Linked DNA regions of Homo sapiens. The protein of the gene in region 5 interacts with the protein of the main gene of each other region in a biochemical or structural test. Each region holds a gene or a part of one and is shown on either strand. Other genes may lie near its edges.

What was found.
Region 1: of the proteins of GSK3B (region 5) and GFI1, one has a biochemical effect on the other in vitro, tested with the Homo sapiens proteins (one study listed by BioGRID).
Region 2: of the proteins of GSK3B (region 5) and SPI1, one has a biochemical effect on the other in vitro, tested with the Homo sapiens proteins (one study listed by BioGRID).
Region 3: the proteins of GSK3B (region 5) and ATXN3 form a complex in vitro, tested with the Homo sapiens proteins (one study listed by BioGRID).
Region 4: of the proteins of GSK3B (region 5) and NFE2L3, one has a biochemical effect on the other in vitro, tested with the Homo sapiens proteins (one study listed by BioGRID).
Region 6: the proteins of GSK3B (region 5) and UBR5 form a complex in vitro, tested with the Homo sapiens proteins (one study listed by BioGRID).
Region 7: of the proteins of GSK3B (region 5) and CREB3L3, one has a biochemical effect on the other in vitro, tested with the Homo sapiens proteins (one study listed by BioGRID).

The regions. Positions count from the first base shown.
Region 1 is NC_000001.11:92,476,420-92,480,660, reverse strand, and holds part of GFI1 (zinc finger protein Gfi-1), read left to right. Parts: coding exon 1-60; intron 61-175; coding exon 176-313; intron 314-1,907; coding exon 1,908-2,073; intron 2,074-4,241. UniProt on the Homo sapiens protein: Transcription repressor essential for hematopoiesis. Functions in a cell-context and development-specific manner. Binds to 5'-TAAATCAC[AT]GCA-3' in the promoter region of a large number of genes.
Region 2 is NC_000011.10:47,357,676-47,361,916, forward strand, and holds part of SPI1 (transcription factor PU.1), read right to left. Parts: intron 2,366-4,241; coding exon 2,178-2,365; intron 1,332-2,177; coding exon 1,169-1,331; intron 1-1,168. UniProt on the Homo sapiens protein: Pioneer transcription factor, which controls hematopoietic cell fate by decompacting stem cell heterochromatin and allowing other transcription factors to enter otherwise inaccessible genomic sites.
Region 3 is NC_000014.9:92,075,583-92,079,082, forward strand, and holds part of ATXN3 (ataxin-3 reference isoform), read right to left. Parts: intron 1-3,500. UniProt on the Homo sapiens protein: Deubiquitinating enzyme involved in protein homeostasis maintenance, transcription, cytoskeleton regulation, myogenesis and degradation of misfolded chaperone substrates.
Region 4 is NC_000007.14:26,158,381-26,162,621, reverse strand, and holds part of NFE2L3 (nuclear factor erythroid 2-related factor 3), read right to left. Parts: intron 1-4,241. UniProt on the Homo sapiens protein: Activates erythroid-specific, globin gene expression.
Region 5 is NC_000003.12:120,003,512-120,007,752, forward strand, and holds part of GSK3B (glycogen synthase kinase-3 beta), read right to left. Parts: intron 1-4,241. UniProt on the Homo sapiens protein: Constitutively active protein kinase that acts as a negative regulator in the hormonal control of glucose homeostasis, Wnt signaling and regulation of transcription factors and microtubules, by phosphorylating and inactivating glycogen synthase (GYS1 or GYS2), EIF2B, CTNNB1/beta-catenin, APC, AXIN1, DPYSL2/CRMP2, JUN, NFATC1/NFATC, MAPT/TAU and MACF1.
Region 6 is NC_000008.11:102,402,344-102,406,584, forward strand, and holds part of UBR5 (E3 ubiquitin-protein ligase UBR5), read right to left. Parts: intron 1-4,241. UniProt on the Homo sapiens protein: E3 ubiquitin-protein ligase involved in different protein quality control pathways in the cytoplasm and nucleus. Mainly acts as a ubiquitin chain elongator that extends pre-ubiquitinated substrates.
Region 7 is NC_000019.10:4,156,302-4,160,542, reverse strand, and holds part of CREB3L3 (cyclic AMP-responsive element-binding protein 3-like protein 3), read right to left. Parts: intron 3,549-4,241; coding exon 3,248-3,548; intron 880-3,247; coding exon 761-879; intron 1-760. UniProt on the Homo sapiens protein: Transcription factor that may act during endoplasmic reticulum stress by activating unfolded protein response target genes. Activated in response to cAMP stimulation. In vitro, binds to the cAMP response element (CRE) and box-B element.

The DNA.
Region 1 (4,241 bases), on a different chromosome or scaffold from region 5:
CTGCTGTGCACCCGCCTGCTGCTGGGCGGCGGCTCCTACAAGTGCATCAAGTGCAGCAAGGTGAGGCTCCCGAGCTCACCACCTCGCCTGCCGTGCGCCCGCTTCCCCTACCCGCGCCTCGCCTGCGCCCCGCGGCCCCTCTCAGCGGCCTTCTCTCTGGCCCCACCCGCCTTAGGTGTTCTCCACGCCGCACGGGCTCGAGGTGCACGTGCGCAGGTCCCACAGCGGTACCAGACCCTTTGCCTGCGAGATGTGCGGCAAGACCTTCGGGCACGCGGTGAGCCTGGAGCAGCACAAAGCCGTGCACTCGCAGGTAAGCGCGGGGCGCACCGCCGCGCGCGGCCCTGCTCGGGGATCTTCTGCATCTCCTCGGTGCAGCACCAGCCACTCTCTGCCTGGAAGTTTTCTCCTCGACTTCCCCCAGTTTCCTCCCCCAAGCCCTCCGCTGCGTCCCCTTGCCCTGGTGCAGGTGTGTAGGGAAAGGAGGATTGTGGCCGGCTCAGGCCTTGAGGCAGCCCTGGATTTTGGTGTCACACCACTGTGAGCCTCGAGAGTGTGATCCTCATTGTTACTTTGGGCTTGAGGTAGGTTTGTATGCACTGATTCGTGCTGCTGATATATCAGACTTACTAGCTCTGTTTCTTTGTGCCTATTCTTTTCACCAAATGGTTGTCACTTAATTTGCATTGACCCCTCTCGACTGAAAAGGCAGGAATCTCAGCTCATTTAGAGCATCTAGTAGCATATTCACCCCGCTATTCATTCTTTCCTTCCTTCCTTTCTTTTCTTTTCTTTTTTCTTTTCTTTTCTTTCAGAGTCTGGCTCTGTTGCCCAGGCTGGAGGGCAGTTGCACAATCTCAGCTCACTGCAACCTCCCCCTGTCAGGTTAAAGTGATTCTCGTGCCTCAGCCTCCTAAGTAGCTGGGATTACAGGCGCATGCCACTACAGCACAGCTAATTTTTGTGTTCTTAGTAGAGACGGGATTTCGCCACGTTAGCCAGGCTGGTCACGAACTCCTGGCCTCAAGTGATCCACCAGCCTGGGCCTCCCAAAGTGCTGGGATTACAGGCGTGAGCCACCATGCCCCACCGCCGCTATTTATTCATTCATTCATTAATAAATATTTGTTGGCTAACTTCCAGGTGCCAAGTACTTAAGAATCTTATAACACATCAGGTCCTTGACAGCATGCCCACATGAAGATTATAGTTTAGCTGAGAGATGGAGAGTAGATGAGCAAGTAAATATGCCAATAGCTATCTCAGGAGAATGCCTACTTACGAAGGCTAAAAAGAGTATTAGCCCATCTCCCCCAGCACCCACACTGGCTGGGGGGAGGTGGCATCTCAAGTGACTGAGGTCTAAGCCTCCTGTTGAGGAGGGTGGAGAAGTGTGTGCTAATGGGTGTCAAAAAAAGCAGGGTGTGGATATGTATTTGCCATGGGGTGTGGAAGGTTGTGGGTGAAGAATGTTTTGGTAGAAAAAGTGTTGAAGGGCCAGGCACGGTGGCTCACGCCTGTAATCCCAATACTTTGAGAGGCCGAGGTGGGCGAATCACTTGAGGCCAGGTGTTTGAGACCAGCCTGACCAACATGGTGAAACCCCATCTCTACTAAAAATACAAAAATTAGTCAGGTGTGATGGCGTGTGCCTGTAGTCCCTGCTACTTGGGAGGCTGAGACACGAGAATTGCTTGAACCTGGGAGGTGGAGGGTGCAGTGAACTGAGATCGTTCCACTGCACTCAAGCCTGGGCGACAGAGGAGACTGTCTCAAAAAAAGAAAGAAAAAGTGTTCAAGGGATTTTAGGGTCAGCTGAGGGGTGAGGAGAGCAGCAGTCTAGTTGACTGCAGTAGGAGTTCTGCATCTCTCTCTCTCTCTCTCTCTCTCTCTCTCTCTCTCTGCAGGAACGGAGCTTTGACTGTAAGATCTGTGGGAAGAGCTTCAAGAGGTCATCCACACTGTCCACACACCTGCTTATCCACTCAGACACTCGGCCCTACCCCTGTCAGTACTGTGGCAAGAGGTTCCACCAGAAGTCAGACATGAAGAAACACACTTTCATCCACACTGGTGAGCTAAAAAGGCCCTTGGCTTGTAGGAAACACCCTGAGGCCAACATTACTCATCTTCTCTGATTTCTGGCCCCAGTGAGTGGTGGATGAGGCCTTTCTGATGGAGTTATTCTCTGCTCTGTGTTAAAGAAAACAAAGGGGTGGGTTCTTTGGTTCATTTACCGGCATAATTCTCCCCAGAGCCACCTTGATTTGGGGTTGTGTCTGAAAGGCCACTCAGCAGGTCAGCTCACAGGTACTCTATACTTGGAAAGAACATTTTCCTTTAGGTTAGCAGCTGCTTCCCCTGCTGCCTGCTCTGGGTGAAATATGAAGCTCCAGGGTCCTCTTAGAGAGTTGCTCTAAAGCTTACCTAGAGATTGAGGACTTTCCCTAACCACCTGGCCTTTTGTGGGAGGGACTCGTGTGGACTCTCCGGCTGCATTTTCAGGAGTCTGAGAGCTTATTCTGATTGAAGAGGAACAAATAATGGCAAATATGATTAAACTCTCTGCTAAGCATTTTTTAAATGCATTATTTCATTTTATGCTCACAACAACTCTGAGAGGTAGCGACTACTCCTTCTCCCCATTTTAGAGATGAAAAAAATGAGGCTAGGTAATCTGCCCAGGGTCACACTGCTAGCAAATGACAGGGCCAGAGCTCAAATTCAGGTCTGACCTCTCAAATGTTCACTCTTGACCACTGTTTATTGTATTTTATGTTCAGAGTCATGAGGTTGGTAGACAGAAAGCTTCTGTTCACTTATTGCCCTTTTCAAAATATCTGCAAGTTAATGCCATAATAATGATAATTCCTTACCTATTATAATGCTTTATAATTTACAAAGTACTTTCAAATCTATCATTTCATTTGATTCTTATTGCCACTCAAGAAAGTAGAAGGAGCTGCTCTTACCATCCTGAAACTCAGAAAGAGTGAATGATTTATCAGAAGTAAGACTGAATGAATAATGTAGCCATGTAATGCTCTGGCTTTTAATCCTGGACTGTTTGTCTAACACTTTATGTGCGGGTGGGAGTTTTAATGCCAAGAACACTCTAATAGTCAAAAGACATTTACATGAGACCCAGAATTTCTGAAAATTTTATTGCAGAATATGAATACTGATTTAGAACAAATCACAGTGTATTCTAAACACCCACCCTTGATGTTTATAAATATACTTGGGTAATGTATATATTTCCATTGAAAACCCAGAAAAGTATTCTACTTTAATCATTCCCTCTTACCTGAAATTTCCATGTAATTCACTCCTTATAAGTAAGGTATTCAGGACACTTATCAAAATGCAACTAGGATCTTGACTGAATAAAACATTAAGCCCTTATCAAACATTTACGTTATACCTAGAATTTGTTTTCTCAGATTTGTTTGACCCTAAAGGGATAGAATACATTTTGATGGGTGGTTTCTTATCAAGGAAATCTGAAGCATGAAAACAGAAAAGAGTTTTTAGCAAGGAGGACAGAGGGTTCCTCAAAAACAAACTTCATCTATTTTATACTTTTTCCAAGGCTGAGCCCTGACTATAATGCCATGCTGGGCTATTGGAAATTCATGCCATTTACCCAACAACACATGAGATGGGGAACAAGACAAAACCTTCTTGTGTTCTCTTATTTATTAATTTGTGGTGAAGAATTGCTGGTATATAAAGAATCATGTGATTAACCCCATAAAATTAAGGAAAAATCAAGACAGTAAAGTATCAGCTGCCTTAATCCTTTGTGGCCCAAATGTGGATTTTTAAAATAAGATATTGAAAAACGTATCCTGCACATGTACCCCGGAACTTAGAAAGAAAGAGAGAGAGAGAGAGAAATAAAGAAAGAAAGAAAGTCCATGTTAAGATGTTTTTTCAGATATAATCTGCTGTCCTTCAAGAACAAGAAAGAAGACGGGCTCACTGATCCATACAAACTAACACCCACTTGGAAATTCAGATTTGAAAACTTCCTCTGAATTAGAACGGAGTCACACGGTTTTAGGACAGCTTCCCCCTCCCCTTCCTGTTGAACATCTGCTCTGAGTGTTCATGGCTTATAAAGTCAGGGGAGTCCTCCCGGGGTAGATTCAGCTGGGGAGGGCACGTGGCCTTTGCTCTGTTTCCGTTTAGCAGGAAACCGTTTGAGGCCTTTGGCTGGGAACCCCCCTTCAGAAAGT
Region 2 (4,241 bases), on a different chromosome or scaffold from region 5:
CTGTCTCAGCCTTCCAAGTAGCTGGGATTACAGGCGTTCACCACCACGCCTGACTAATTTTTGTATTTTTAGTGGAGACGGGGTTTCGCCATGTTGGCCAGGCTGGTCTCGAACACCTGACCTCAGGTGATCCGCCTGCCTCAGCCTCCCAAAGTGCTGGGATACAGGCGTGAGCCACCACGCCCGGCCCACTCACACCCATTCATGCTCACACACTCATTCACACACCTGCTTTCACACATACACATACCTGTTCACACACATGCACACCTGCTCACACACGCAGGTGCTTAAGCACGTCCTCACCCCCCACACACACCTGCTCACACATGGGAACACACACATGCTTACACATGTTAAAACACATATCCACTCACATACATGCACAGACCTGCTCACATATACACATACATGCTCACACACCCCAGCTCACACCTTCCTGCTCACACACACCTGCTTACATACACCCTCAAACATGTTCACACCCACTCACACATCCACTGACACACACCTATGCCCATTCACACACACTTATATCACACACATCCCTGCTTACATACACATTCACACATATACACTTGCTCACACACCTGCTGTCACACCCCCACTCACACATATCACTCACACATGCCTGCTTACAGCCACTCACATATACCATGCTCACATCCCTGCTCACACAGGCACACCCACACACTGCTGACACCCACTGACATCATACGTGCACAGCTGCTCACACGCACTGAAATACATTCATGTGTTGACAGACACACAAACATGGCCACACCCACTCTCAGCCACACCAGCTCTCACATTCACCTTCTCACACACCCACTCACACAGCCACTCGCACACATGCACCTGCCCGTACCTGTGCACACGCACCCTCTGCACACTTGCTCACACACACCCAGATGTACACACACTCATGGCACAGAGAGACACACACACCTGGCACACTTCATGGAGATGCCCGTATGCACTACACAGCAGATACACACACACAGAGACAGCCACAGACAGCCCCACAAAACACACACACTGGCAAACATGCACACACACACACACGCGACTCGGTGGCGTGGCTGCTGGGTCAGTTGGCCTGGCTGGGTGGGGGCAGGGCACAGACACGGCCAGGGTCGGGGCCAGGGTGGAGGGCCAGGTGCCCCACCTGTCTCCCCAGGCAGGAGCCCAGGCCCGGGCTCCAGGCCATCCGCCTCGCCGTCAGACACCTCCAGTGGGGGGCTCTGCCGCTCGCCCTCCTCCTCATCTGAGCTGGGCTGGGCTGGGGACAGGGATGGGTACTGGAGGCACATCCGGGGCAGGTAGGAGACCTGGACGGTGGGGGAAGGAGATCAGAGTCAGGAAGGGCCAGCTTACAGCTCAGGGGGGCTGGGAGGGAGGTCAGCTGGGGAGAGAAGGAGTGCAGAGGGCAGGGGACAATGGCAGGCACAGGAGACTGGAGGAAGAAGACCAGGGAAAAGGGGGGCCAGTTGAGGTGCTGCACATAGGGTGCAGGCTGTGGGGCGAGGGGTGCTGACATCCAGCCCACCCAGCCCTCCCAGCTGGGCCTCCTGGTTTAGGACTGTGGGCACCGGGGAAGTGGTGCCTTGTTCTCCTCCCTGCAGCGGTGCTGTGTGGACCCGCATTAGGCTGGGGTCAGAAGAGGGCATGCTAGGGACCGGTGCGTTGGGTCTGGAAGGGGGTTTCATAGGTGGGATGATGAGTGAGTGGAGGGACCCTGGAGGTCAGTAGGGGTGGTAGAGGTCAGCAGAGGTCACTGATCCGGGTTAGGGTCAGTAGGGAGGGTCACTGGGGAGAGGCAGGGTCAGTAGAGGTGTTCAGTGACTTGGTGTGGGATCCATGAGGGCTAGTGAATGGGGGTGGCAGACAGTGAGGCCCAGGAGGGCCCACAACAAGGCGTTGGGATGGGGAGGCTTGGTGAGGGTGCGAGAATTATCTGGGGTCTGTCCATACTCGGGGTGAGATGAGATAAGGGGTGTGGGGTCATGAGGTCACTTGGGGGGTCAGGCGGCAGCCGTTGGAGCTCCAGCCGCCGTTGGCACTGTGGGGCAGGAAGCTGAGTTGGGTAAGAGCCTGTGTCAGCTTCCTGTGAAGCTCCCGGGCCCCACCACAGGCCTGGCAGTCTCCTGGGGGACGGGGCAGGCGGTGGCATGCACCTGGTGGCCAAGACTGGGATGGGGTGGCACCATGGGGGTATCGAGGACGTGCATCTGCTCCAGCTCCATGTGGCGGTAGAGCTGCTGCAGCTGCGGGGGCTGCACGCTCTGGAGCTCCGTGAAGTTGTTCTCGGCGAAGCTCTCGAACTCGCTGTGCACGTGGTGGGGGTGGAAGTCCCAGTAATGGTCTGTGGGGGACAGCCAGGCAGTATGGGGTGAGCTCAGGGTTGGGCAGGGCAGGAAAAGGTTATAGTAACATTAAATAATACTGCCAGGCCATATGGGGCCTAACCATCTCGTTTAACCCTCGCCACCTGCATGGTTACTCTAGGCCTGCATTTTATAGATGAGGACACTGAGGCTTCGAGCGGCTACATAGCATGCCCAAGGTCAAAAGCATCCGGGTCACAGCCAGGACTCAGGGCTGAAGCAAAGCTCGTGTTCTCAGCAATTCCATCCTGATTCCTGTGCAGTCACACAGACCGAGCGTCTAATCCTGGCTCTGCCATTTACTTGCTGTGTGACCTCAGGCACATATGTGGCCTCTCTAACCTCAGTTGAGTTGCCTGTAAAATGGGGATCACAGTTATTGGGAAGATACGAATGAGTACACATTTGTAAAACACCTCGCACCAGAGCCGGCCCTCAGGGAAAGTTGATTCCCCTCCTATCCTGTTAAAACCTCCCAGCCAGGGCCGCGCGCGGTGGCTCACGCCTGTAAACCCAGCATTTTGGGAGGCGGAGGCGGGCGGATCATGAGGTCAGGAGATTGAGACCATCCTGGCCAACGTGGTGAAATCCCATCTCTACTAAAATACAAAATATTAGCTGGGCGTGGTGGTAGGTGCCGTAATCCCAGCTACTCAGGAGGCTGAGGCAGGAGAATCGCTTGAACCCGAGAGGTGGAGGTAGCAGTGAGCCGAGATTGCGCCACTGCACTCCAGCCTGGCGACAGAGTGAGACTCTGCCTCAAAAAAAAAAAAACTCGGCCGGGCGCAGTGGCTCACGCCTGTAATCCCAGCACTTTGGGAGGCCGAGGTGGGTGGATAACGAGGTCAGGAGATCAAGACCATCCTGGCTAACACAGTGAAACCCCGTCTCTAGTAAAATACAAAAAAATTAGCTGGGCGTGGTGGCGGGTGCCTGTAGTCCCAGCTACTCAGGAGGCTGAGGCAGGAGAATGGTGTGAACCCAGGAGGCGGAGGCTGCAGTGAGCCGAGATTGCGCCACTGCACTCCAGCCTGGGCGACGGAGCGAGACTCCGTCTCAAAAAGAAAAAAAAAGAAAAAAGAAAAGAAAAAAACCTCCCACGGGTTCCTGAGCTCCCTGGCTGCCCACAGTCTCTCTCTCTGTCTCACACACACACACTCACACAGCCTTGTCACATGGCCAAGGTGTGACAGCAGAGTCACAGGGCTGACATTCCTCACACACTAGAACTTGTCCAGGCACACGGTGGCCCTTCCTCTTCAAAGCCATGACCTTAAGCAGTGGCACCTGTGTTCCCGTGAGGTTCCTGGGACCTGAGACTTTCCTGGAAAACCCCCTGTGGGTTCCTTGAGTCTGTGGTGGAGGAGACTGAAGTCCGGGGAATAACCCCATGCCACCAAAAGCCCTGTCTTGGAACTGGGGAAGATCTTCAGCATGAACACCTTTTCCAGGAACAAAAACTGCCACACATCTGCGGGACTTCCTGGGCGCAATTCGGGGTCCAAAATGAAGCGTGGTAATAAAGTGACAAGATCGGCTGTCTCATGTGGGCCAAAGAGGGCGCCTACGAGACTCCAGGTCCAGGCAGTGTCTCTGGGACAAGTCCACCACCAGCCATGCGTGCGTGTGTACGTGTGTACAAAGGTGTACACATGTCTGCCTGCATCTCTCTTTCTCTCTCACACAAACACCTAATCACACATCCCTAATAGATAATCATGATTTTTGGTTCTGGACTGGATCTCGGAGTACTCGCTTTCTAAACCTGCTTTGCAGTATGACCATGGACAAGACATTTTTTTCTCCCGGAGCCTCTCATTCCCCACTCTAAAAGTCAGAAATGCTTTTAGACCT
Region 3 (3,500 bases), on a different chromosome or scaffold from region 5:
ATACTCAAAAAGGGAAAAGAAAAACTAGAAAATCGTATGAATAACAAATCAGCACCAGGGTCAATTTGGGAAGGGTGAGAGGGAAGAAAGAGTTAGCTTGATAACCTTAGACCCAAGCTCCCAAAGACAGAACCTAGAGAGACAACGAACTACCTAGGCTAAGTAATCAGGAATTTTAGTGAAAGGCAAATATTAGCTTCTTAGCTCCTACTAATGAGCTCTACAAGGTTTTGAATGCAAGCCATTGTTAAAAATGAACATCAAGAAGTTAGTTCTTAACTCTTCTCAGCAACATGTGACTATGTAAGATATTCTCAAGCTCTTTCCAAATTCTCACCAGTATTTGCAAAGTCAAGCCAAGAGGCTGAAGCTGGTAACCATCACTGCACACTTTCCTCCTCAATCAATCCTCCACCAAGTAGGAAGGAGGTATATCGATATTCGAACATTTTTAAAAGGGTACAAGGTTGCCTGACCCTGTTTACTAAAAAGCACTAGTTATTGCTGACATTGTACTTGTTATAACTTACTTAGTCATTATTGGACATTACTGAATTATCGTTACTACTATAAAAAGTTCAGGCCGAGTGCAGTGGCTCATGCCTGTAATCCCAGCATGTTGGGAGACCCAGGCTGGCAGATTGCCTGAGATCAGGAGTTCGAGACCAGTCTGGCCAACATGGTGAAACCCCCTCTCTACTAAAAATACAAAAAAATTAGCCCGACGTGGTGGCATGCGCCTGTAATCCCAGCTACTTGGGAGGCTGAGGCAGGGGAATTGCTTGAACCAGGGAGGTGGAGGTTGCAGTGAGCCGAGATCGCGCCACTGCACTCCAGACTGGGTGACAAAAGCGAGACCTCGTCTCAAAAAAGAAAAAAAAAAAAAAAAAAGCTCAATTTGTTGGAAGTTTCATATTTTTAATCCAGTTTTTAAAAAATTTTAAGTAAAAGAGCAGTTTATTTTTATGCTTTAAATATACTTTTCTTTTCTTAGATATACCTGTAAATTTTGTATTATAGTTTCTCTATGATGTATGTCTTTAGACCATTTTATTTTGACAAAAAAGACTCTGATGGCTGGGCGCGGTGGTGCACGCCTGTAATCCCAGAACTTTGGGAGGCCGAGGTAGGCAGATTGCCTGAGCTCAGGAGTTCGAAACCAGCCTGGGCAACATGGTGAAACCCCATGTCTACAAAAGACACAAAAATTAGCCAGGCATGGAGGCACTTGCCTGTAACCGCAGCTACTTGGGAGGCTGAGGCAGAATAATCGCTTAAACTCAGGAGGCGGAGGTTGCAGTGAGCCGAGATCATGCCACTACACTCCAGCCTGGGTGACAGAGTGAGATTTCGTCTCAAAAAAAAAAAAAAAAAAAAGTCTGAAATAAACATGGTGAAAGTATCACATGGGAATTATTCTGGAAAGCAATTTAGAAATCTGTTCCAAGGCCTTAAAAATGTTCATATCCTTTAACCCAATAATCTGACATCCTCAGAAAAACTAGAAGAAATGATAAGACATTTGAGGTGTAGAGGCAATATAAGAATTGTTCATTGCAATATTAATTATAATAGCAGAATTCAAAAGGCTCACATATAAATTATGCCACATCCATTCATTTTATGAAATATCATGCAGCCTGTTACAAAGACTATTTACTGTCATAGGAAATGAGTACAACACTTACAAGGTAAGTGTGTATATGTCACAGAAAAAGAATGTGCCAAAATACTAACATCAGTCACTGAAGGAGGTGAGAGTATGCTTTCTTTTTTTTTTTTGAGACAGAGCCTCGCTCTGTCGCCCAGACTGGAGTGCAGTGGTGTGATCTCTGCTCACTGCAAGCTCCACCTCCCGGGTTCATGCCATTCTCCTGCCTCAGCCTCCAGAGTAGCTGGGACTACAGGTGCCTGCCACCACACCCAGCTAATTTTTGTGTATTTTTTAGTAGAGACGGGGTTTCACTGTATTAGCCAGGATGGTCTCCATCTCCTGACTTCGTAATCTGCCTGCCTCGGCCTCCCAAAGTGCTGGGATTGCAGGCATGAACTACCGCGCCCAGCCTTTTTTTTTTCTTTTTGAGACAGTATCTCGCTCTGTCACCCAGGATAGAGTGCAGTGGCACAATCTCGGCTCACTGCAACCTCCACCTCTGGGTTCAAACGATTCTCCTGCCTCAGCCTCCAAAGTAGCTGTGATTACAGGTGTGCACCACCATGCCCAACTAATTTTTTTGTATTTTTAGTAGAGACAGGCTTTCGCCATGTTGGCCAGGTTGGTCTTGAACTCATGGCCTCAAGTGATCTGCCTGCCTCAGCCTCCCAAAGTGCTGGGATTACAGACATGAGCCACTACGCCTGGCCATGTATGCTTTAATTTCTATATTTCTTTTCTCTTTTTTTTTTTTTTGAGGCGGAGTTTCACTCTGTCACCCAGGCTGGAGTGCAGTGGGGTGATCTCAGCTCACTGCAACCTCTACCTCCTGGGTTCAAGCGATTCTTCTGTCTCAGCCTCCTGAGTAGCTGGGATTACAGGTGCCCATCATCATGCCTGGCTAATTTTTGTATTTTTAGTGGAGACAGGGTTTCGCCATGTTGGCCAGGCTGGTCTTGTACTCCTGACCCTCCTGACCTCAGGTGATCCGCCCACCTCAGCCTTCCAAAGTGCAGGGATTAGAGGCGTGAGCCACCGTGCCCAGCCAATTTTGATATTTCTTAAAATAAAATTTTTAGAATGTTAGTTTTTCTAATTAAGTAGATTTAAGTTATTTTTTATTATTTATTTATTTATTTATTTGAGATGGAGTTTCACTCTTTTTGCCCAGGCTAGAGTGCAATGGCACGATCTCGGCTCACCGCAACCTCGCCTCCCGGGTTCAAGTGATTCTCCTGCCTCAGCCTCTCAAGTAGCTGGGATTACAAGCATGCGCCACCACGCCTGGCTAATTTTTTGTATTTTTAGTAGAGATGGGGTTTCTCCATGTTGGTCAGGCTGGTCTTGAACTCCTGATCTCAGGTGATCTGCCCACCTCAGCCTCCCAAAGTGCTGGGATTACAGGTGTGAGCCACCGCGCCTGGCCTTAGATTTATTTTTTACATTAACTAGATAATTGATGATATAGAATTACAATTAATTATTATGATTATTATTTTATGACAATAGCATTTAACTATGTTAAAAATAAAGCTAATATATTTTAGAGACACATATTAAAATGGTTATAGAATAATATGATGATTGAGATTTGTTACAAAATAATCCAAACTTGCAGGTGGGACAGTGGAAAGAATGGGAGATGGGAGTATTATAAAACGAGATTGGGCCGGGCTCAGTGGCTCATGCCTGTAATCCCAGCACTCTGGGAGGCCGAGGCAGGTGGATCACTTGAGGTCAGGAGTTTAAGGCCAGCCTGGACGACATGGTGAAATCCCGTGTCTACTAAAAATACAAGAATTAGCCAGGCATGGTGGTGTGTACCTGTAATCCCAGCTACTTGGGA
Region 4 (4,241 bases), on a different chromosome or scaffold from region 5:
CATAAGAGGCCCATGTTCCATGGGGGCGGCAGTAAAGAGTATCATTTATGATTCATTTATTTAGTGTTAAATTATCCCAGCAGGCAGAATAGGCCAACTGGTCCTCAAAATACATGATGTTTTTTGTATTTTTCCTTATTATGGAAAATTTCAAACATACGTAAACAGAATACAGAATCACTGTATGATTATACAGTGCACTTTCCATGTAACTATTACCCAGTTTCAACAATGATCAGCACTCTTATCATCAATACCTTCACCCCTCCCCACTCAATTCTTCTTTAATAGTTTTTAGGCAGGATTTATACACGCAGAAATGCAGAAACCTTAGGTGCACACTTTGACAAATGGAGGCACCCATGTAAACTGACACCCCAACCACGATATAGAACTTTTCAGAAAGTTCTCCTCGCTAATATTTTTAGCTCAGCTTTGCCTGTTCTAGAACTGAAGAATGAATTTTTTTTTTTTTTTTTGAGATGGAGTCCAGCTCTGTCACCCAGGCTGGAGTGCAGTGGCGTGATCTCAGCTCACTGCAACCTCCACCTCCCGGGTTCAAGCGATTCTCGTGCCTCAGCCTCCCAAGTAGCTGGGATTACATGTGTGTGCCAACATGCCCAGCTAATTTTTGTATTTTTAGTAGAGACGGGGTTTTGCCATGTTGGCCAGGCTGGTCTCAAACTCCTGACCTCAAGTGATCTTCCTGTCTTGGCCTCCCAAAGTGCTGGGATTACAGGCAAGAGCCACTGCGCCTGGCATTAAGCATGAATTTTAAACTGCACTTATGTGCAAGCTAATTCTGCATTCATTGTTTTTGCATGCTAGATCCCCATTCCCCAACCTACCTCCACCCCCATCCAGAGAGATGTTCTTTAGAATATATTAGAAAATAATAAAAGGAGCTAGGGAAATTGGGCTTTGACTTTTAAGTACCTGGTAAGTCACTTTGGCCCAGTTTTTTAACTGCTCTGAGCCTTAAATTCATAGAAGGGCTTTCAGCCAGACACTCCTTCCATTCAGGTATTGCCGGACACTGAGGAGCCCTGGGGGAGGAGCGTCAAGGCAGAGGACCTTAAGCTTGGGATGGCACAAGAACCACCTGGGGGTCTGGAAAACTCCAGAGGTATTCATTCAGCCTGGTGGTAGATGGGTGGGCCTGGCAATCTGCATTTTAACTAGTGCCCCAGGAGGCTCTCATTTTGTCACTGGATTTCCCTTAGACCCTTGGAGAAACTCTAAAGAAAGGTAAGACCCAAAAAAAAAAAAAAAAAAAAAAAAAAAAAGAGAGAGAAGCTAAGAAATTAAGTTCTTCCTGCGGTTGAGCTTTAGCAGAACTTCAGTTGGCATTTAGAGTTCTGCCTCCTCAACAAGTCCAAGGCCTCTTTCACATAACAGCTCTTCAAATATTTGAAGTTGGTGATCATGATCCTTCCTCAGTCTGATCTTCTCAACATGGAACTGCCCCAATTCATTCAACCATTTCCAGTATGACCTCCCCCTTGGGGAGGGAAGGGTTCCTTTCATGCTAAAGTGGATTCCAGTCTTTGGTAATTTCCTCTAGAAGACAAGGGGTGTCCTGGAGGTTTGACCTGGAGCTCAGAAGCAATAAAAGCGAATCATCTGTTGACGATCTATTACTATGCCAGGAACTGTACCAGCCCTTAAACATACAGTGTCATTTAATCCTCACAAGAACTCTTCAAGAAAGATGTTAATTTTCTCCATTTACCAATTTGGAAATCATGGTTTCCCAGGAAGAGGTGGAGCTGGATGGCGTGATGGTCAGTTTTAAATGTCAAGGAGCTAGGCTATTGTTCTTAAGTCATTCTATTAAGTGCTAACCTGTGTGTTGCTCTGAAGGTATTCTGTACATGTGGTTAGCATCTACAATCAACCAGCTGACTTTAAGTAAAGGAGATTATCTTCAATAATCTGGGTGGGTCTCATCCAATTAATTGGAGAGCTTTAAGAGCAAAACTGAGGTTTCCTTGATAAAGAAGAAATTCTCCCTGAAGCCTGTAGCATTGCAGCTCCTGCGGAGCTTCCAGAGTTTCTGGGTGCCCTAGAGAGTTTGAATTTGCCAGCCTTCCCAATTATATCATCCAATTCCTTGAAATAAATCTGTGTGTATATGTGTATTTATTTATTCATATTCTACTCATTCTGTTTTTCTGGAGAACTCTGACAGATAAAGACAGGAACCCAGTTCTCCCCAATTTCAAAAGATCACGTCTTGCCTCTGTGACTTGCCCACATTCTGCCAACCACCACCTGCAACTCCACCAAAAACAACTCAGGGATGTACCTCAGCCTAGGCAGGCTTCAGCTGCCTGGAATTGTATTTGAATATTAACATAGATCCAGCCGGGTGCGGTGGCTCACACCTGTAATCCCAGCACTTTAGGAGGAGAGGCAGGAGGATAGCTTGAGCCCAGGAGTTTGAGAGCAGCCTAAGCAGCATGGCAAGACCTTGTCTCTGCAAACAAATTTTTAAAAAATTAGCCAGGTGCAGTGGTGCATGCTTGTGATCCCAGCCACTTGGGAGACTAAGGCAGGAGGATGGCTTGTGCCCAGAAGGTTGAGGCTGCAGTAAGATATGACTGCACCACTGCACTCCAGCCTGGGTGACACAGCAAGACCCTATCTCTCAAAAAAAAAAAAAAAAAAAAGCAACAAGATTTTAAGAATAAACTCTTCCTATCACAAGGCTGCCATGAACGAGACAGACTTTTGTTTTTACCTTTGAAGTTTTATAGTGAGCAGAAGGTATGGTTTACTCAGTGCTTAAGAACAGTGACCTGTTCTATTCCTAGCAAGGTCACTAACTTGCTATATAACTTTAGGCAATCCCAAGTTTCACCACTTGATTAATTATAATGCTAGCCTGAAAGTCTGCTTTCCACTGCCCTCATCCACTCAGACAGTTGGCATTAAATAGTCAGATGGCCCATCAGGATTTCAGATCTGACCTACTTTCTAGTTGAGACTCGGGCCTTGAAGGACCCAAGACACCTTCACACCCATGGTATCTTTGAAGTTCTGCAAACACAATGTCATGAATGATAAGTGCTCAACAGACAGACACTGGCTGAACTGACCTCTGCTCCTAACCCTGTCCCTGGGTGCTATTTCAGGTGAAAGCCAAGACCCAGTCTCCACATTCCAGCCACTGCAGTTCAAAGGAGAGGATGCCAAGTCCTATAGAAGAAATGTTACAGAGTGCAATAGGGCTCAAAGGGAAGAACAGGAAATGTTTTATGGATGAGGTGATGGTTGAGCTGAGTTTGAGAATTTAACCATAAAAGACTTGAGAGGAATGAAAGGAAGGCATTCCGGGCAAAGGTAAGAACAGACTAAAGGGCAGGAGATCATAGGGTTGTTGGGCAAAGGGATGAAGAAAGTTTTCTCCTGGAAAGAAGGCTACATGGAGAGGCCCAGCAAGAGCAGCTGGGGGCTGGGTCACATAAGCCACAAGGGCAGCCCTGAATGACAAAATACTGAATAAGTAGGCAATGGCGAGCTAGAGGAGGCATCCCACAAAACGCAGAGAGACGAACCAAGGTGTGCTTTGGAAACCTGCACCTGACAACACAATGGACGGGAGTAAATTGGGGAAGAAGCGGTACAAGCCCCACCTGAATTATTAATAGTGTATCAACCCTGCTCAACTTGCACTATCTCATTCAATCCTCACCACCACTTCCCTAAGGTGCTCTTACTATTCCATTTTACGGATAAGGGAACCAAGGCTCAGAGCACTTAAGAAGTGTGCCCCAGATCACACAGCCAGTGTGGCACTGGGATCTTCCCCAGCTGGTCTGACTCCAGGGCCAGCACACAAGACCCCTAGACCAGCCTGCCTCAAGTCAGGGCTTGGGCCCTGCATGCTCATTTCCCACTGTGTGGGTTGAGAAGTAGGGGTCATGGAAAGAAGGAGAATGATACAAGAGACTTGGCAAAGATGATTTCTCTGTAACCTACTAATGGAGGGGAAATACTGACTGGAAAAAGATGGTTTGAGCCAAGCTTCCTCAGGGTTGCACATCAAGCCAGCAAAACCCCAGATTTTCTCAGGAGCACACACCAAGTCCTATGCAAATGATCCTCCATATAGACCAGCTGCTTTCAGAAACAGCTCAGTTAGCTTTTAATCATAAGCAAGCTGAACACCCCAAGAATTGATGGAAGGAAGATGGTGATTGTTATAGATTGAACTGTGTCCCCAAAATTCATGTTGA
Region 5 (4,241 bases):
CTGTTATTCTTCCATTACAATTTCCTTTCTAAAATACTAACTGAATTCCAATTAACCTAATAAAAGAAAAGTAATATAATATTTATGAGTATTTTTCTCTGTGAAATATAAATTGCTAGATAAATGAATATCCAAATGCACTAGTGGAATATTATAACCAATATTTATATCCATTTAAATTCACAGAAGTATTAATATACACAAAAGCCAGTGAATGTCTGTGACCAATTAACACTTTCATTTGTAAGATGGCATTCATGGTCGCTTCCAAGATGGCTGAATAGGAACAGTTCTGGTCTACAACTCCCAGGAAGATCTTTGCAGAACACAGGTGATTTCTGCATTTCCAACTTAGGTACCTGGTTCATCTCACTGGGACTGGTTGGACAGCAGGTGCAGCCCATGGAGGGCGAGCCGAAGCAGGGTGGGGCATTGCCTCACCTGGGAAGTGCAAAGGGTTGGGGGATTTCCCTTTCCTACCCAAGGGAAGGCATGAGTGGCTGTACCTGGAGGAGCGATACACTCCTGCCCAAATACTGCACTTTCCCAATGCTCTTCGCAACAGGCAGACCAGAAGATCCCCTCCCATGCCTGACTCGGCGGGTCCCACGCCCACACAGCCTTGTTCGCTGCCAGCACAGCAGTCTGAGATCAACCTAAGATGTGGGAGCTTGGTGGGGGGAGGGGCGTTTGCCATTGCTGAGGCTTGAGTAGGCAGTTCTATGCTCACAGTGTAAACAAAGCAGCAGGGAAGCTCAAACTCGGCAGAGACCACCACAGCTGAGCAAGGCCTACTGCCTCTCTAGATTCCACCTCTGGGGGCAGGGCATATCTGAACAAAAGGCAGCAGACAGCTTCTGCAGACTTAAACGTCCCTGCCTGACAGCTCTGAAGACAGCAATGGTTCTCCCAGCATGGCGTTTCAGCTCCCGATAAGGGACAGACTGTTATCCAAGTGGTTCCCTGACCCCTGTGTAGCCTGACTGGGAGATATCTCCCAGTAATGGCCAACAGACACCTCATACAGGTGGGTGCCCCTCTGGGACGAAGCATCCAGAGGAAGGATCAGGCAGCAATATCTGCTGTTCTGCAGCCTCCTCTGGTGATACCCAGGCAAACAGGGTCTGGAGTGGACCTCTAGCAAACTCCAATAGACCTGCAGCTAAGGTACCTGACTGTTAGAAGGAAAACTAACAAACAGAAAGGAACAGCATCAACATCAACACAAAGGACATCCACACCAAAACCCCATACGTAGGCCACCAACATCAAAGACCAAAGATAGATAAAACCACAAAGATGGGGAGAAACCACAGCAGAAAGGTTGAAAATTCCAAAAACCATAACGCCTCTTCTCCTCCAAAGAAACACAACTACTCGCCAGCAAGGGAACAAAACTGGATGCAGAATGAGTTTGACAAGATGACAGAAGTAGGCTTCAGAAGGTCAGTAATAACAAACTTCTCCAAGTTAAAGAAGTATGTTCTAACCCATTGCAAGGAAGCTAAAAACCTTGACAAAAGGTTAGACGAATGGCTAACTAGAATAAACAGTGTAGAGAAGAGCTTAAATGACCTGATGAAGCTGAAAACCAGAGTATGAGAACATGGTGAAGCATACACAAGCTTCAGTAGCTGATTCAATCAAGCAGAAGAAAGGATATCAGTGACTGAAGATCAAATTAATGAAATAAAGCGAGAAGACAAGATTAGAAAAAAAAGAGTGAAAAGAAATGAACAAAGCCTTCAAGAAATACGGCATTATGTGAAAAGACCAAATCTACGTTTGAATGGTGTACCTGAAAGTGATGGGGAGAATGGAATCAAGTTAGAAACCACTCTTAAGGATATTCACCAGGAGAACTTCCCCAACATAGCAAGGCAGGCCAACATTCAAATTCAGGAAATACAGAGACCACCACAAAGATACTCCTCAAGAAGAGCAACCCCAAGACACATAATTGTCAGATTCACCAAGGTTTAAATGAAGGAAAAAATGTTAAGGGCAGCCAGAGAAAGGTTGGGTTACCCACAAAGGGAAGGCCATCAGACTAACAGCAGATCTCTCGGCAGAAACTCTACAAGCCAGAAGAGAGTAGGGGGAAAATATTCAACATTCTTAAAGAAAAGAATTTTCAACCCAGAATTTCATATCCCGCCAAACTAAGCTTCATAAGTGAAGGAGAAATAAAATCCTTTACGGACAAGCAAATGCTGAGAGATTTTGTCACCACCAGGCCTGCCTTACAAGAGCTCCTGAAGGAAGCACTAAACATGGATAGCAACAACCGGTAGCAGCCATTGCAAAAACATGCCAAATTATAAAGACCATCGATGCTAAGAAGAAATTGCATCAATTAATGGGCAAAATAACCAGCTAGCATCATAATGACAGGATCAAATTCACATATAACAATATTAACCTTAAATGTAAATGGGCTAAATTCCCCAATTAAAAGACACAGGCTGGCAAACTGGATAAAGACTCAAGACCCATCAATGTGCTGTATTCAGGAGACCCATCTCACGTGCAAAGACACACATAGGCTCAAAATAAAGGGATGGAGAAAGATCTACCAAGCAAATGGAAAGCAAAAAAAAATCCTGGTCTCTGATAAAATAGACTTTAAACCAACGAAGATCAAAAGAGACAAAGAGGGCCATTACATAATGGTAAAGTGATCAATTCAACAAGAAGAGCTAACTATCCTAAAATATATGCACCCAATACAAGAGCACCCAGATTCATAAAGCAAGTCCTTGGAGACCTACAAAGAGACTGAGACTCCCACACAATAATAATGGGAGACTTTAACACCCCACTGTCAATATTAGACAGATCAAGGAGACAGAAAATTAACAAGGATACTCAGGACTTGAACTCAGCTTTGGACCAAGCGGACCTAATAGACACCTACAGAACTCTGCACCCCAAATAAACAGAATATACATTCTTCTCAGCACCACATCCCACTTATTCTAAAATTGACCACATAATTGGAAGTAAAGCACTCCTCAGCAAATGTAAAAGAACAGAAATCACAACAAACTGTCTCTCAGACCACAGTGCAATCAAATTAGAACTCAGCATTAAGAATCTCATTCAAAACCACACAACTGCATGGAAACTGAACAACCTGCTCCTGAATGACTACTTGGTAAATAACGAAATTAAGACAGAAAGAAATAAGTTATTTGAAACTAATGAGAACAAAGACACAACATACCAGAATCTCTGGAACACATTTAAAGCAGTGTTTAGAGGGAAACTTAGAGCACTAAATGCCCACAAGAGAAAGCAGGAGAGATCTAAATCAACATCCTAACATCACAATTAAAAGAACTAGACAAGCAAGAGCAAACAAATTCAAAACCTCGCAGAAGACAAGAAATAACTAAGATCAGAGCAGAAGTGAAAGAGATAGAGACAGAAAAAAAACCTTCAAAAAAAAAAATAAATGAATCCAGGAGCTGATTTTTTGAAAGATCAACAAAATAGACCATTAGCAACACTAATAAAGAAGAAACGAGAGAAGAATCAAATAGATGCAATAAAAAATGATAAAGGGGATCACCACTGATCCCACAGAAATACAAACTACTATCAGAGAATACTATAAACACCTCTACGCAAATAAACTAGAAAATCTACAAGAAATGGATAAATTCCTGGACACATACACCCTCCCAAGACTAAACCAGGAAGTCGAATCTCTGAATAGATCAATAACAGGTTCTGAAATTTAGGCAATAATTAATAGCCTACCAACCAAAAAAAGTCCAGGACCAGACAAATTCACAGCCGAATTCTACCAGAGGTACAAAGAGGAGCTGGTATCATTCCTTCTGAAACTGTTCCAATCAATAGAAAAAAGGGGAATCCTCCCTAACTCATTTTATGAGGCTAGCATCATCCTGATACCAAATGATATCTGGCAGAGACACAACAACAAAAAAAAAGAAATTTAGACCAATATCCCTGATGAACACTGATGCGAAAATCCTCAATGAAATACTGGCAAATCGAAACCAGCAGCACATCAAAAAGCTTATCCACCACGATCAAGTCGGCTTCATCCCTGGGATGACAGGCTGGTTCAACATATGCAAATCAATAAATGTAATCCATCACATAAACAGAACCAATGACAAAAACCACATGATTATCTCAATAGATGCAGAAAAGGCATTCAACAAAATTCAACAGCCTTTCATACTAAAAACTTTCAATAAACTTGGTAT
Region 6 (4,241 bases), on a different chromosome or scaffold from region 5:
GCAATAATTGGACAAGTTCGAATTACTTCTGGACAAGAAACAAAGCCACTACTACAACATAAGAGAACAGATAATCAGCTGAACAATCTAATACCCCTCTCCCCAAAGCCTTCCATATAAAACTCTGTTTTCATCATTTAGAAATTAAAATAACCCTACCATATTGTCTGGGCTTTCTTAGCTTTCTCCATCAAATTAACTTCCTAATCTCAAATTTAGCTTTTCTTAAGGCTTAAAAAACCATCTTCCTCCACTTCTCACTTCATAACAAGGAGGCTGTCACGGAAAACACCCAAATGAATTTCCACCATGTCCCTAAGTAAGAGTCTTGGAGACACAGTTAAGGCCATCTCTGGAGTTCCAGGTTGTCTGTGAGGTAGACCTGGTATCTGAATTCAAGTAAAGACCTGGAATACCTCATCGCCTGAATTCTGAACAGCAGATTCATGCTGGAGCAGAGCCAATTTCTTGAAACGGCAGGTTCTCGACACTTCTATATCACAGAAATGGAGCCTGAACTCATGGGGAAGAAAATAAAAACTTATCTACTGATCCATTCATCACAGTGCTTTGTCGACTAGCCACTATCATCATCTTTATAACTAGCAATCTAGAATACAACCATTACATTTAATGGAATTCTAAAATATAATCTTTTTACATATACTAGTATGTTTTTTAATTAACACAAAAATTTGCTGTCAAGAAAAATCTAGGTTTTTATTATCAGTGGACTTTTCCTATGAAAAACATTGTGATAAATTGAAGCCAAGAAAAACTTCAGGCCAGCCATGGTGTCTCCTGCCTGTAATCCCAGCATTTTGGGAGGCCAAGGTGGGAAGACAGCTTGAGGCCAGGAGTCTGAGACCAGCCTAGGCAACACAGCAAGACCATGTCTCTAATTTTAAAGAAATAAATAAGGCGAGGCACAGTGGTTCATGCCTGTAATCCCAGCACCTTGGAGAGGCTGAGACGGGATAATTGCTTGAGCCCAGGAGTTCGAGACCAGCCTGGGCAACACAGAGAGACTCCATCTCTACAAAAAATTAAAAATTAGCCAGATGTGGTAATGCAAGCCTGTAGTCCCAGATACTCAGGAGGCTGAGGCAGGAGGATCGCTTGAGCCCAGAAGGTCAAGGCTGCAGTGAGCCATGTTCACATCACTACACTCCAGCCTGGGCAATAGCGCAAGAGCCTGTCTCAAAAAAAATTAAAATAATAAATAAACAAGAAAAAAATAAAGACTAGAGAATAGCTAGAAAGAGTAAACTACCCAAATTTATATCAGCTAGAAAGCAGATTTAAAAACTGTGGTACAGTCATGAAATAAGTACTACTTTTTTTGTTTGTTTTGAGACAGAGTCTCACTCTGTTGCCCAGGCTGGAATTCAATGACACAATCTTGATTCACTGCAACCTCCACCTTCCCAGGTCAAGCAATGAAAATACTACTTTTAATATAAAAGAAGAAACTACTACATGCTGCAACACAGATCTGTTGCAAAAGCACTGTTCTAAGCAAAAGAAAACAGACACATGATTCCATTTCTATGAAATTCAAAAAGGAAAAGCATTACAGTGAGAGAAAGCAGAACAATGGTTGCTAGGTAGCCAGGACCTAGCCTAGGGGGAAGTGACTGAAAATACAAAGGGAAACCAGGTAACTTTTTGGGGTGATGAAAATGTCCTGTACCTGGATTGTGGTGGTGATTACACAACTGTACACATTTGCCGAAATTCATCAAACTGTACACCTAAAATGGGTTAATTTTACTGAATGTAAAGTATAACTCAATAAAGATGAAAGAGTCAAAGACATTTTATTAAGTGATACTGTCAGAAATTGAACAAATAACAGTACTTTAGCTGTGCAAGTAACATAAATTGTGTATTTACAAGTAAAATAACATTAAATATTAATACCTTCTTTAATATCCTGACAAAATGACAATGTTACAAAGCATGGTTATCTAAGAATTTATCGTATTTCTAATTTGGAAGGGGTTTTGTTACCACTACACTGATTGTCTCAAGAAAGTAATAAGAAATATGATCTCAGAGAATAATTTCTTATAGCCAAGTTCAATTGACTAATACCTCACCTGTCTATTAGTTCATGAAAATGCTGCAAACTTTTCACATGACAATCTTATTTCTCAAAGTGACCCCATGGAAAAATCACTGAATTTCAAGAATCCTGTCTTATCATCCTTATCTAACAATTACAAGTGACTGCTGACAAAAAATGCTGTCATACCGGAGGTTAAGAAGTTATAGCACTGAGGCCTGGCACAGTGGCTCACGCCTGTAATCCCAACACCCTGGGAGGCTAAGGCAGGTGAACACCTGAGGTCGGGAGTTCGAGACCAGCCTGACCAACATGGTCAAACCCCGTCTCCACTAAAAATACAAAATTAGCCAGGCGTGGTGGCTCACACCTATAATCTCAGCCACTTGGGAAGCTGAGGCAGGAGAATCACTTGAACCCGGGAGGCGGAAGTTGCAGTGAGCAGAGATCACGCCACTGCACTCGAGCCTGGGCAACAAGAGCGAAACTCCATCTCAAAAAAAAAAAAAAAAAAAAAAAGTTACAGCACTGAGCTTTAAGGAACTAAATAATTCCCCAGTGGCCCCTTCTTCTAAGGTTACAATCCAAATTCTAAGGTTATTCTACAAATGTCAAATTTTTTAACATGTTAGAACCCAATCAGCTTTATTAAGTAAAATTATCAAAATTGTCAATCAGAAATAAGCATTTATGAGACAACAGGAAAATCTGGGCAATTTTGTTATTAAGGTTTTTTCAGGTTTTTTTTTAAAGGCTTCATATTTTGAAATATATAGTGAAGATACAGCAATTAAATTACCTGATAGAGGAGAATAAATGGGGAGAGAGTTGAAATCAGATTGGCCATGAGTTGACAACTGTTAAGACTGTGTGATGGGAACATGGTTGTTCATCATACTATTCTCTCTACTCTTGTATATGCTTAAAATTTTCCAAAATAAAAGGCTTAAAAATAATACTCAGGGGAAAACTTAAAAACCAGTTCTAAAAATAAACCAACAATTCATAACCACAGTGAGCCAAGAGAAGAGGCTATTTTCACATGACCAGAATGCCAAGGAGTCAAAATGACAGAAACATGGATGCTAACTAGAGTCTGTTTTCTTAATTAGAAATATGTATAATATGGGCGAGCGCAGTGGCTCCCGCCTGTAATCCCAACACTTTGGGAGGCCTAGGTGGGCAGATCACGAGGTCAGGAGTTCAAGACCAGCGTGATCAACACGGTGAAACCCCATCTCTACTAAAAATACAAAAATTAGCCAGGTATGGTGGCGTGCGCCTGTACTCCCAGCTACTCAGGAGGCTGAGGCAGCAGAATCGCTTGAACCCGGGAGGCGGAGGTTGCAGTGAGCCAAGATTGTGCCAAAATGGCACCACTGCATTCCAGCGTGGGCAAGAGCGAGACTCAAAAAACAAAATAAATATGTATGATAAAATGAGGGAGGGGAGACATTAAGTACATCCTCCTGTAACATAAAATTGCTTCCTTTAATATACCTTATAAGATCTACGTCCATGTAACTCAGTCTTCAGCAATTAAATTTTCCTTTGGAAACTATTTCCTAAATAACCTAATGGTCTAATTGTTAGGGGAAAAAACCCTGACCTTTCCTAATTTCACCTATTATTCCTAGTCGTATTCCTGTGTATCCTGTAATTTTCTTCACAAGTGTCTGTTTATTCCTAGGCCTATGATTCAGTCACAGATATCCTGATTTATAAAATTGCTCTGCCTTTGTTTTGATTTTCTATTTTGCTTGGCTATTCTACACCCTGCTGTTAATCTTACTTAAGCAAATTCATTTAAACATTTTAGTTAGGCCAGACTGTACTTTTCCAATACAATAAATCTAGTATTGGTTTTTTATTGTTTGTTTTTGGTTTTGTTTTTGTTTTTGAGATGGAGTCTCGCTCTGTCACCCAAGCTGGAGTGCAGTGGCGCAATCTTGGCTCACTGCAACCTCCACCTCCCAGGTTCAAGCAATTCTCCTGCCTCAGCCTCTTGAGTAGCTGCAACTACAGGCATGCACCACCATGCCCAGCTAATTTTTGTATTTTTAGTAGAGATGGGGTTTCACCATGTTGGCCAGGCTGGTCTCAAACTTCTGACCTCAGATGATCCGCCCACCTCAGCCTCCCAAAGTGCTGGGATTACAGGCATGAGCCACCG
Region 7 (4,241 bases), on a different chromosome or scaffold from region 5:
AAAATTAGCTGGGTGTGGTGGTGCACGCCTGTAGTCCCAGCTACTTGGGAGTCTGAGGCAGGAGGATCGCTTGAGGCCAGGAGTTTGAGGCTGCAGTGAGCTAGGATTGCGCCACTGCACTCCAGCCTGGGCGATAGAGTGAGATCCTGTCTCAAAAAAAACTTTTTTAAGATGATAAATAAAGAGCGCCTGGCATATAGCAGGTGCAGCCTCAGTTTTAGCTTTGTTCTTTTTGTTGTTGTTATTGTTGAGACAGTCCTGGTCTGTTGGCCAGGCTGGAGTGCAGTGGTACAATCACAGCTCACTGCAGCCTTGACCTCCTGGGCTCAAGCGATCCTTCCACCTCAGCCTCCCGAGTAGCTGGGACCACAGGCATGTGCCACCATGCCAGGCTAATTTTTGTATTTTTTGTATAGATGGGGTTTCACCATGTTGCCCAGGCTGGTCTCAAACTCCTGAGCTCAAGCGATCTGCCTGCCTTGGCCTCCCAAAGTGCTGGGATTACAGGTGTGAACCACCACACTCAGCCAGTTTTAGCTTTTAGTTGTTGTTGCTATTGTTACTACTAAGTACTACAGAGGAAGACACCCCAGCCCAGGCGACAGTGAGCCCAGGACTGGAATGGTCTCTAACTGTGGGCAAATTCCACGCCTTTCTGTGACTCAGTTTTCCAGTCTCTGAAACGGGGATATTTAGGCTCCTCGAACCCGAGCAGCCCTCCCAGCTCCAACGCCCCATGGGAGGGTGTGGGGGTGCTCACCAGGTCCCCACTGCTGCCCGAAAGGAGGAGGTCTTTCACGGTGAGATTGCATCGTGGGGACAGGTCCACCGGATCAGCCGGCTTCTCAGCACAGATCCTTCCTCCTGGGCTCCACATTTCTGACCAGGGCAGGTGGGGACGGAGACAGGGAGAGTGTCAGACGGGGGGAGTCCTGAGCTTCCAGCCTCTAACCGCCTCCTCCACCAAGTCTCCCATGATTAATCCCAACATTCATATGACTTCTGCCAGAGTTTGGAGTCCCCAAGGCCTGAGTTGAAGGGGGCAGCCCTCACTAGTGACTCGGTCTCCCCTCTGCTATAAGATGGGAACCCAGCCAGTCATGGTGGCTCACGCCTGTATTCCCAGCACTTTGGGAGGCCAAGGCAGGCGGATCATCTGAGGTTAGGAGTTCAAGACCAGCCTGGCCAACATGGTGAAATCCCATCTCTATTAAAAATACAAAAATTAGCCGGGCCTGGTGGCGTGCACCTGTAATCCCAGCTGCTCGGGAGGCTGAGGCAGGAGAATCACTTGAACCCGGGTGGTGGACGTTACAGTGAGCTGAGAATGTGGCACTGCCCTCCAGCCTGGGTGACACAGCGAGACTCCATCTCAAAAAAAAAAAAAAGATGGGGACCCAAATTCAACAGGGCTTGGTTCTGTCCGTCCCACAAGGCTGAGGAAGACACAGGACATTGTCAGGAGACACCGGCTGATTCAAAAGGGAGTGGCTGTTATCACACAGAATTACAGGCTAGATTTGCAGCCAGCCAGGCGTTATCTCACCCAAGGGGCAGGGACGAGGTCTGATTCACCTCTGGTTGTCCCCTCCTGGTAGCCGGCATGCAGTAGGCATGCTGTCCCAGCACACAAACTTTGGGTCAGGTAACCCTTGGTTCTAATCCTGGTTGGGCAGGGCTGTGTGACCTTGAGTAAGTGACTTCACCTCTCTGAGCCTCAGATTTTTTTTTTTTTTTTTTTTTGAGACGGAGTCTCGCTCTGTCGCCAGGCTGGAGAGCAGTGTGGCAATCTTGGCTCACCGCAACCTCCACCTCCCAGGTTCAAGAGATTCTCCTGCCTTAGCCTCCCGAGTAGCTGAGACTACAGGCGCCTGCCACCACACCCAGCTAATTTTTGTATTTTTAGTAGAGACAGAGGTTTCACCATGTTGGCCAGGATGGTCTCGATCTCTTGACCTCGTGATCCGCTCGCTTCGGCCTCCCAAAGTGCTGGGATTACAGGCGTGAACCACTGTGCCCAGCATTTTTTGTTTTTGGCTTTTTTTCGAGACAGAGTCTGGCTCTGTCAGCCAGGATGGAGTGCAGTGGCATGATCTCAGCTCACTGCAACCTCCGCCTCCCGGGTTCAGGTGATTCTCCTGCCTCAGGCTCCTGAGTAGCTGGGACTACAGGTGGCCCCCACCATGCCCGGCTAATTTTGTATTTTTAGTAGAGATGGGGTTTCACCATGTTGGCCAGGCTGGTCTTGAAGTCCTAACCTCAAGTGATCCGCCTGCCTCAGCCTCCCAAAGTGCTGGGATTACAGGCATGAGTCACCGCTCCGGGCCTGAGCCTCAGTTTTGTCAACTCTCCAATGGGACCAAGAAGAGCTCATAGCAAGGGTCAAGGGACAAAGGCCACCCAGAGGCCAAGTATCTCCAGCCAGGGCTCTGCCTGGCCCGCCGGGAATGCTTAATCAATAGAGTAAATCATTACTGATCTGCTGTTCCCCACGTCTAGGAGGAGCACCCTGGAACCTAGGACCTGGTAACCTCATGCACTTTTATTGAGCATCTACAGGCTGGGTGGAGCGGCTCACACCTGTAATCTCAGCACTTTGGGAGGCTGAGGTGGGCAGATCACCTGAGCTCAGGAGTTCAAGACCAGCCTGGCCAACATGGTGAAACCTCGTCTCTACTAAAAAATAAATATTAGCTGGGCATGGTGGCATATGCTTGTGATCCCAGCTACTCAGGAGGCTGAGGCAGGTGAATTGCTTGAACCTGGAAGGCAGAGGTTGCAGTGAGCCGAGATCGCGCCACTTTACTCCAGCCTGGGTGACAGAGTGAAACTCTGTCTCAAAAAATAAAAATAAATAAAAAATAAAAAAAAATCTACTAGGAACCAGGCACGGGGTACAGACACGTAGAAGGCAAGACCCTGACTTTGGGCTGTGCTTGTCAGCACCATGCCTGGTGCCTGAGCCACCTGCCGGGGTTGCATCCTAGCTCTGTGGTTTTAGCTCATTGCTCAACCTGACAGGACTGTTTCACGATCTGGAAAATGGGCTCCCAATAGCATCCACGTGAAAGCATGGAAACACCTAGCCAAGGGAGACACGTGTCCTGAGTTTGAGTCTGGGCCCAGCTCCAAATTGCTGTGTGACCTTGGACAAGATGCCAGCCCTCTCTGGGCCTCCATTTCCTCACTTACAGGAAGGGCCCTGGAACAAGGTGAGGGCGGTGGGCAGAGACACAGCAGGACTCACCCAGGTCTATGGTCACAGAGGCTTCAGGTACTTGGATCACTGGCCCTGGGGTTGTGGTGGAGCAAGAGTTGCCAGGATGATAGGAGAGGCAGGGCCCCTTGCCAGGCTGGGCAGGATGGCAGCCGGCGGGGGAGGTGGCTGGTCCGCTGCGTGGAGGGGTGTCCTGGGGGTCGGAGGGGAGGTCTTCGGAGATGCCACTATCACTGCCTTCGGGGGACCAGAGTGGGGAGCTGGGCAGTGAGTCTCCAGAGCCCAGGATGGAGCTGAGGAAGTCGTCAGAGTCGGGGTTTGGCAGGACCTGCTGGGGTGGACAGGGAGGGGTAGTAGGAATTAGGAAGTGCTCACTCTTTTTAGATTAGTGTGTGGCCCCAGGGAAACCAGTGACCCTCTTTGGGCCTTAGGTGTCCTTCCCTTCTCCAAGATGAGTTACTGCTTCTTCCTCCCGGGGCTGCTGAGGCTCAAACGCAGTAACATAGCATAAAAATCCCAGCCAGTGCCAGGTGCAGTGGCTCCTGCCTGTAATCCCAGCACTTTGGGAGGCCGAGGAGGGCGAATCACTTGAGGTCAGGAGTTCGAGATCCGCCTGGCCAACATGATGAAACCCCATTTCTTCTAAAAATACAAAAAGTAGCTGGGCGTGGTGGCGGGCATCTGTAGTCCCAGCTACTCGGGAGTCTGAGGAAGGAGATTCTGAACCCGTAAGACGGAGGCTGCAGTGAGCCGAGATCACGCCACCGCACTCCACCCTAGGCAACAGAGCAAGACTCCATCTCAAAAAAAAAAAAAAAAGAAAAAAAGAAAAACAAAAGAGCCAGGCACGGTGGCTCAGGCCTGTAATCCCAGCACTTTGGGAGGCCAAGGCGGGCAGATCACCTGAGGTCGGGAGTTTGAGACCAGCCTGACCAACAGGGAGAAACCCCGTCTCTACTAAAAATTCAAAATTAGCCAGGCATGGTGGCACATGCCTGTAATCTCAGCTACTCGGGAAGCTGAG